Homo sapiens: one gene and its partner. The protein of the gene in region 1 interacts with the protein of each later gene in a pairwise test. Each region holds a gene or a part of one and is shown on either strand. Other genes may lie near its edges.

Evidence for each region.
Region 2: the proteins of ZNF275 (region 1) and RBM10 interact in binary tests that used the Homo sapiens proteins (3 or more experiments, as listed by UniProt).

The regions. Positions count from the first base shown.
Region 1 is NC_000023.11:153,332,487-153,336,958, forward strand, and holds the start of ZNF275 (zinc finger protein 275), read left to right. Parts: upstream 1-1,666; 5' UTR 1,667-1,799; intron 1,800-2,975; exon of another isoform or gene 2,976-3,051; intron 3,052-4,147; 5' UTR 4,148-4,193; coding exon 4,194-4,224; intron 4,225-4,472. UniProt on the Homo sapiens protein: May be involved in transcriptional regulation.
Region 2 is NC_000023.11:47,151,437-47,155,254, reverse strand, and holds part of RBM10 (RNA-binding protein 10), read right to left. Parts: intron 1-3,818. UniProt on the Homo sapiens protein: Binds to ssRNA containing the consensus sequence 5'-AGGUAA-3'. May be involved in post-transcriptional processing, most probably in mRNA splicing. Binds to RNA homopolymers, with a preference for poly(G) and poly(U) and little for poly(A).

The DNA of each region.
Region 1 (4,472 bases):
CTTATAACAGAGCTACCATTTGACCCAGCAATCCCAGTACTGGGTATATACTCAAAGGAAAATAAATCATTCTACCACCAAGACACATGCACCTGTATGGTCATCACAGCACTATTCACAATAGCAAAGACGTGGAATCAACCTAGGTGATCATCAGTGGTGGATTGGATAAAGAAAATGTGGTAGGCATTCACCACAGAATGCTATGCAGCCATAAAAAAAGAATGAAATCATGTCCTTTGCAGCAACATGGATGCAGCTAGAGGCTGTTATCCTAAGTGAATTAATGCAGGAACATAAAACCAAATGCCACACATTCTCATTTATAAGTGGGAGCTAAACATCGGGTACTCGTGCGCATAAAGATGGGAACAACAAACAATGGGAACTACAAGAGGGGTCAGGGAAGGAGGGGTCAAGGGTTTAAAAACTAACTATTGTGTACTATGTTCAGTACTTGGATGACAGGGTCATTCGTACCCCAAACCTCAACATCACACACTATACCCAGGCAACAAACCTGCACATGTACCCCCTAAATCTAAAATGAAAGTTGAAAACATAAAATTTCTCAGGAACTACATGTGTGTGTATATATATATACATACATACACACACACATATATACACACACATTGCACATAATGGGCTAGCTTTCTCTTTTGTCTCTCTCTCTATATATACACACACACATATATATACATATATATATACTGCACATAACATTGGGCAAACTACTTGAACAGACACTTTACAAAGAAAGATATAGAAATGGCCAGTGAGCACATAAAAGCATACTCAACATAATTAGTCATCAGGGAGATGATAATTGAAATAACAATGAGATGCCACTTCCCACCCTTTCAAATGGCTAAAAATAAAGGCTGACAACCTCAAATGTTGATGAGGATGGGAAAGAAAAGGAGCTCGCATACATTTCTGGTGGGAATGTAAATTGCACAACCACTTTGGAATACATTCTGGCAGTTTCTTATAAAACATAAAACTATCCTGTGATGTGGCAATTCATCTCTTAGGTATTTGCCCAAGAAAAATGAAAGCATATGTCCACACAAAGATGTGTACATGAATATTCATAGTAGCTTTATTTATAATCGCCCAAACTGGAAACAGCCCAGATCATAACCTGGTGAATGAACAAACCAACTCTGATATATCCAAACAATAGCATACTACTCAGCGATAGCACATTCAACAACATAGATAAATCTTGAAAACATCACGTTGAATGAAAGAATCCAGACACACAATAGTACATACGATCTGATTCCATTCATACAGAATACTGGCTTTCCAGTCTTCGCCCTCAGTTCCCGACCCTTCACTCCCCCCACCACCATCTTGAAGATGCCCAAGGGGGAGAGGTCCCTTCCATTCCTTCGTTCCTTCCTTCGTCTGCTGGTCGATTTGTTCGCTCGTTCATTCATTCATTCGCACGCTCATTCCACTCCTCCCCACCTCCACCCAAGCGTCCAGCCCGCGCGCGCCGCTCCCCCGCAGGCTGATCAGACTTGCCTGCCCAGTCCGCCCCCGCCCAAACCCCGCCCCCTTCCCGCCACGCCCCCTTCCCGGGCCAATCGGGGACGAGACTGGGGCCGGGGCGGGGCCTCGCTCCCTCAGAACCCCCGGCGGCGCTCACGGCTCCGGAAACGCGCCGCGGGGCTGTTAGCTCGGCTGGGCACGGGCGGCTCCGTGGCGCTTCCTGCCACGCCAGGCCTGCCTGGGCCGCGCCAGCGCCGCTCCACCGAGGGCCGCGCGTCGGCCGCCGCCGGGCCTGGGTGAGTGTGCGGGCCGCGGGAGGATGTGCGGGGGGCGCTGGAGGGGCCGCAGGGCGGAGGTGATCGTGGGGGCGGCAGGAGGACGTGTGGACCTGAGTGAGCGTGCAGGGCCGCGAGAGGATGTGCAGGGGGTGCAGGACTGTGTGCGGGGCTGGAGCGAGTGTGCGGGCCGCAGAAGAGTGCACGGTGGAGGGAGGGGGCGTCTCTGGGCAGTTGGAGAGCTGCTCGGCCTTGGGCGGGCCAGAGCAGGGAACGGGTCCCGGATGACGAGTACGAAGAGGCCCGAAGGCCTTCCCGAGGCGGGCGGGGGGCGGCGATCCCGGGTGGGAATCGCTAAAGTGTAGAGGCCTGCTCTGCTCTTTGGGGGACGCTAGGAGATGGGAACCGCTCAGGGGCGGAGAGAAAGGACCCCTGCCCCTAGCTCCTAGGAGCCCGATCTGGAGGGGGCATTGTAGGGGTGGGGGTTAAAGGACTTTTCCCTGGTCTAGGGGAGGGACTGAGCCGCAGTCTGGGAGCTGGGAGGGTGGGCCAGGTGGGAACAGTTCCCGCTGGGGAGTCCCTCCTTTCCTTTTGAGTGGGTGGGAGTGGGGGGGGGCGGTTAAGCCTCAGCTTGGTGGGGAGAATGGGGGCCGGTAGGTAGCCTAGAGAGAGAGCTGTGGAGAGGCAGGGGAAAGGGGGCGGTGAGCCGAGCTCAAGGCCCTCTGTCTGAACCAGTCTTTTTCTGTCGCCCTACTGGGGGCCGCCATCTCCCACTTCAGTGCCCCCGCCCCCTTAAACTCCTTTGCTGGCTCCTCCAGTCTATATTTGGGTGATTAATTATATATCTTTTCCACACACACCCCCCACTCGCCTGCCGCCCAAAGTCCATGGTCCCTTTCAAACAACCCCCTGCCCCCATTCCTGGCCCACTTCCCAGAGGTCCCACCCTGCCACCTTGTTCCAACTGAAGCCCTCCAGCCAGCCTTGACCTAGCTGGGCATGCGGCCCCCTCCAGTCTCCTTAGTCAATGAAACATTTCCTCTTCAACCTCAGCCCGACATTTTTCCTTTACAAGAGAATTTCAGATGGGATTGCTGGAACAGCACCTCCCCTAGGTACTAATGCTGCCTCAGCCCCTCCCCACCCTCACCTTCCCCCAACCCTGCAACATTGGACCTTCAAGTAGAAGCCACTTGCACAGTATCTGGCCCAGTTCAGTACATCCCCACAAAATGTTACTAGGGGGATGTACTGAACTGGGTCAGACACTGAGTTTTATATATAGAACCCTATTGAGCAGTAATTTGCAGCCTTCTGTCTGTGAGGGACCCCTTGGAAATCTACCAGAACTTGTGAATTCTCTTCTAACCATCAGCACAGACTCAGAGATAGTGGGCTCCCATTTCAGCAGGTTCCTGGGCAGGAATCCTGTCAGTAACAGAGATTCTGAGAGTTGGAGAATCTGGGAACCTCCAGATTCTAGACAGGCCCAGTGTTAAGGAGGTGCAGCTCTGCATCATAATCTCCTGGGGTGCTTGTTGAAAAATGCAGACTCCTTGGTCTCTCCCAAACCTGCGAAACTCCCACATGAGTTCTTAGTGAACTCCACACCAACTTTCTCACCCAGTGATCCAGCCCTTACCCAAACCTGCCTGGGCTCCTTGGATGGCCCTGGGCTCTTTGCAATTTGCATAGCATCCCACCCCACCCCCAATTTCGACCTTTGTATCCAGGCGATGTTACCTAAAGGAAGCTATACTTAAAATTTATTTCGATTTTTAGTAAGATGCCATGAATCTTCTTGGAGAAATGGGAACACAAAGCTTTCCTCAATTAAGTACAACAAACACTACAAAATCCCCTTCTGGTCTACCTTCTGGCTTTTTATAGAAAGGAAATAAGATAGAAACCCAAACAGAAAGAGACAGGTGCCCAGGCAAAGTGAGAGGAAACAGATGCCTTCCCACCCACACATACAGAAAAAGGCACACACAGACACAAATACCCCAAGAGAGACAGACTTTCCTGGTGAGACACCCTCTCTTTAGGCCCTTCAGGATTCTGCTACTTCGAGTAGCAGCCTGTTTGCTGCTTTGGGACGGGACGGGATGGGCCCACGTGGGGCCTTCACTTCCGCCTCCTGGCCTGTCAGGTGGAAAGAACATGAAGGCCAGGCTCAGCGTGGCCCAGGGCTTGGCTCAAGGGTTGCATCCTGGCCTGGCTAGGGTGGATCCAGATCGTGGCAGTATATATTCAGTTGAACCCTGTATCTGGCCCAGTTCAGTACATCCCCCAAAATGTGGGGGACATGTTCCTGGGAGGTGCACACAGGTCTGCTTCTGTTCACCTGAATTATTGCAATCCAACAGATGGGGCCTTACCTGCCAGGCTGATCCCTTGGAGTAGTTCTGAGGCATGATGAGTCATCCGTGTGTGTCTCTTTTGGGTAAGTCTGGGTGTTTATGCATGGTGTCTGCTGGCTTTGACGCTGGGCATGCTATCAGAAGACCCTATAGGTGGGGTTACAACATGGTGAGGAGTATCGTTTTGGTTCCGGAAGCACTTATATTTTCATCTGTGCCACTGTTGCTGAACTGTCTTTGCCCAGAGACAGTTCTCTCAATCCAAGCAATACAACTCACAGGAGAAAAGATATTCAGGAAAGAGAATCTGGAGTCTAATCTCCCTTTTGGA
Region 2 (3,818 bases), about 110 Mb from region 1:
GATAAGTACTGTTCTAGGTAATGGGGATACTGCTGTGAACAAAATAAAGTCCCTGTCCCCACGAACTCAGCTTGGAACCCAAACTCTTTTTTTTTTTTTTTTTTTTTTGAGAGGGAGTCTCGCACTGTCCTCCGGGCTGGAGTGCAGTGGCGTGATCTTGGCTCACTGCAACTTCCACCTCCTGGGTTCAAGCGATTGTCCTTCCTCAGCCTCCCGAGTAGCTGGGATTACAGGTGCCTGCCACCACACCCAGCTAATTTTTTGTATTTTTAGTAGAGATGGGGTTTCATCATGTTGGCCAGGCTGGTCCCAAACTCCTGACCTCGTGATTCACCCGCCTCGGCCTCCCAAAGTGCTGGGATTACAGGCGTGAGCCACCACACCTGGCCCCAAATTGTTTCCCTACCGTAAATGCCTAGAGAAGAAATCACTGTCAGTGGTATGAGTAGTTATAAGGTTCTTGATACAATCAATTTGAACTGTAGTCATCAAAATTCAAGAACTGGGCCATCATGGTGGCTCACACCTGTAATCCCAGCACTTTCGGAGGCTGAAGCGAGTGGATCACCTGAGGTACGGAGTTCGAGACCAGTCTGGCAAACATGGTGAAACCCCGTCTCTACTAAAATACAAAAATTAGCCGGGTGTGGTGGCACGGGCCTGTAATCCTTGCTACTCAGGAAGCTGAGGCACAAGAATCCCCTGAGCCTGGAAAGCAGAGGTTGCGGTGAGCCAAGATCGCACCACTGAACTCCAGCCTGGAAGACAGAGTGAGACTATCTCCACAAACAAAAACAAACAAACAAACAAACAAAAAAAAAAGGAAAAAAAATCAAGAACTGAACAGATATGAATAAATTTATAAATTTTCAGATGAAATTATCCTGAACTCTCTTGACATCCAATATCCAAACCAAATAAATTCAGGTATTGAACTCTTGCTATCTAAACTCAGGAAGGGAACATATTTGGATAGAAAGGAATATTTTTAATTGGCCACCAAAGCACTCTGAACAAACACCTTCCAAAGGCATATCCCTTTTATAAAGCATTTCTAGGATGCTGGACTGAATCATCATATATGAGGATCTTCACAAAATGAGTATATTTCTAGAAAATATAAAATGCTAAAATTGGCAGAAGAGATGAAATGGTAATCAAAAACCAGCTCCAGATGCTTTTATTTTATTATTTTTTGAGACAGGGTGTCACTCTGTCACTGAGGCTGGAGTGCAGTGGCATGATCATGGCTTACCACAGTCTCAACCTCCCAGACTCAGGTAATCCTCCTGCCTCAGCCTCCTGAGTAGTTAGAACTATAGGCACCTGCCACCACGCCCAGCTAATTTTTGTATTTTTTGTAGAGACAGAGTTTCGCCATGTTGCCCAGGATCGTCTCGAATTCCTGGGTTCAAGTGATCCAACTGCCTCAGCCCACTGCGCCCAGCCTCCAGATGCTTTTAAAGGTGAGTCCTACCAAGTTTTTCGAGGTACAGATAATTCTTATACAAGTTTCTCCAATAAAGAGAGAATAACAAAGGCTGCCCAATTCATGTAATGAGGCTACCTTGATTCCAATGCCAGATAAATACTGAAAATAAAAATATTGGACTACCTCACTGATAAATACAGGTGTAGATATCCTAGATGATACAATGGCTAATAAAATCTAACAAGGTTTTAAAAATATACATAAATCACTTAAATAACATTTCTGCCAAAAACTCATGAGTAAGCATCAGAAAAATCCAAACTGAGAAACATTCTATAAAACAACTAACTTTAAAACATGCTTTCAATATAATCCATAGGTTCAGGAAAAAAAAAAATGACAAGGTCATAAAAGACAAAGATAGAATAACTGTTTCAGATTAAAGGAGACAAGGAGCTCAATGCAATACATGATCTTGGACTGGATCCTGGATTGGGGAAAACCATTATAAAGGACATTATTGAGAAGAGTGATAACATCTGAATATGGGCTTTATATAGAATAAAAGTACTATATAATTGTTTAATTTCCTGATATTGATAAGTATATTGTGGTTATGGAAGAGAACACCTTTGTTCTTAAGACGTACATGCTGCCAGACTTAAAAGGTCATGTCAGGCTGGATGTGGTGGCTCATGCCTGTAATCCCAGCACTTTGGGAGGCCGAGATGGGCGGATCACCTGAGGTCGGGAGTTTGAAACCAGCCTGATCAACATGGAAAAATCCTGTCTCTACTAAAAATACAAAATTAGCTGGGTGTGGTGACGCATGCCTGTAATCCCAGCTACTTGGGAGACTGAGGCAGGAGAATCGCTTGAATGCAGGAGGAAGAGGTTGCAGTGGGCCGAGATTGCACCATTGCACTCCAGCCTGGGCAACAAGAGTGAAACTCTGACTCAAAAAGAAAAGTCATGGCTGCCACCAACTCAAACGATTAAAAAAAACGTGTGTGTGTGTGTGTGTGTGTGTGTGTGTGTGTGTGTGTGTCTATGTAAAGATATAGAGCTATAGGGTGGGCCAGGCGCGGTAGCTCACGCCTGTAATTCCAGCACTTTGGGAAGCTGAGGCAGGTGGATCACCTGAGGTCAGGAGTTTGAGACCAACCTGACCAACATGGTGAAACCTCGTTTCTAATAAAAATACAAAAATTAGCCAGGCGTACTGGCAGGCGCGTGTAATCCCAGCTACTTGGAAGGCTGAGGCAGGAGAATTGCTTGAACACAGGAGGCGGAGGTTGCAGTGAGCCAAGATCACGCCATTGCACTCCAGCCTGGGTGACAGAGTGATTCCGTCTCAAAAAAAAAAAAAAAAAAAAAAAAAGATATAGAGTGATAGAGCAAATGTGGCAAAATACTTAAAACAAGTAATTCTGAGTAGAGGATATATGGGAATTCATTATACTTTTTCTTGCAACCTTTCTGTAAATTTGAGATATTTTCAAAGTAAGAAGTCATAAACATATACATACATACCATGATCAAGTGGGGTATAGCTCAAGAATGCCAAGGATATCATTTAATGCAATTTACAAAATTTTTATTTATTTTTTTGATATGGAGTCTCACTCTGTTGCCCAGGATGGAGTGCAGTGGCACGATCTCAGCTTATTGCAACCTCCACCTCCCAGGTTCAAGCGATTCTCATGTCTCAGTCTCCCCAGTAGCTGGGATTACAGACATGCTTCACCACGCCTGGCTGATTTTTTTATTTTTAGTAGAAATGAGGTTTCACCATGTTGGCCAGGCTGGTCTTGAACTCCTGGCCTCAAGCGATCCAACCACCTTGGCCTCCCAAGGTGCTGTGATCCACCATGCCAGGCCACAATTTATGAAATTAATGGACAAAGGGAGAAAAAAAGCACAGGATTTTGAAGTTCAATACTTATTTATGGTCAATCTTAGCAAACGAAGATTAGATAATTTTCTTGATTTATTAAAGGATACATTCTAAAAACTTACTGCATGCACCATACTTAATGGAGAAACTTTAGACACATTCCCTTTTATTCCTCTCCCTTCTTCCTACTGTCTCAACTGCCATGTGCTGAGGATGGCTACACAGAAGGGGCTGCCTGTCAGCCCTAGATTAATTGCTCTTCTGCAGACTGCCTTTATGGGAAAGAAAAGTAAACTATCTTGTCTAAGCCATTATCCTTTGGACTTTCTGCCACAACCAGCCAAAGTAAATCTTAATTTGTGTACCCAGTATCACTTATACTATTTAATATGGTACTAAAAGTCCTGGACAATACTATAAATGAAGAAAAATAAATAAGTGACAGGATAGATTTGCATACAATATGACCAACTACTTAGAAAGAACATC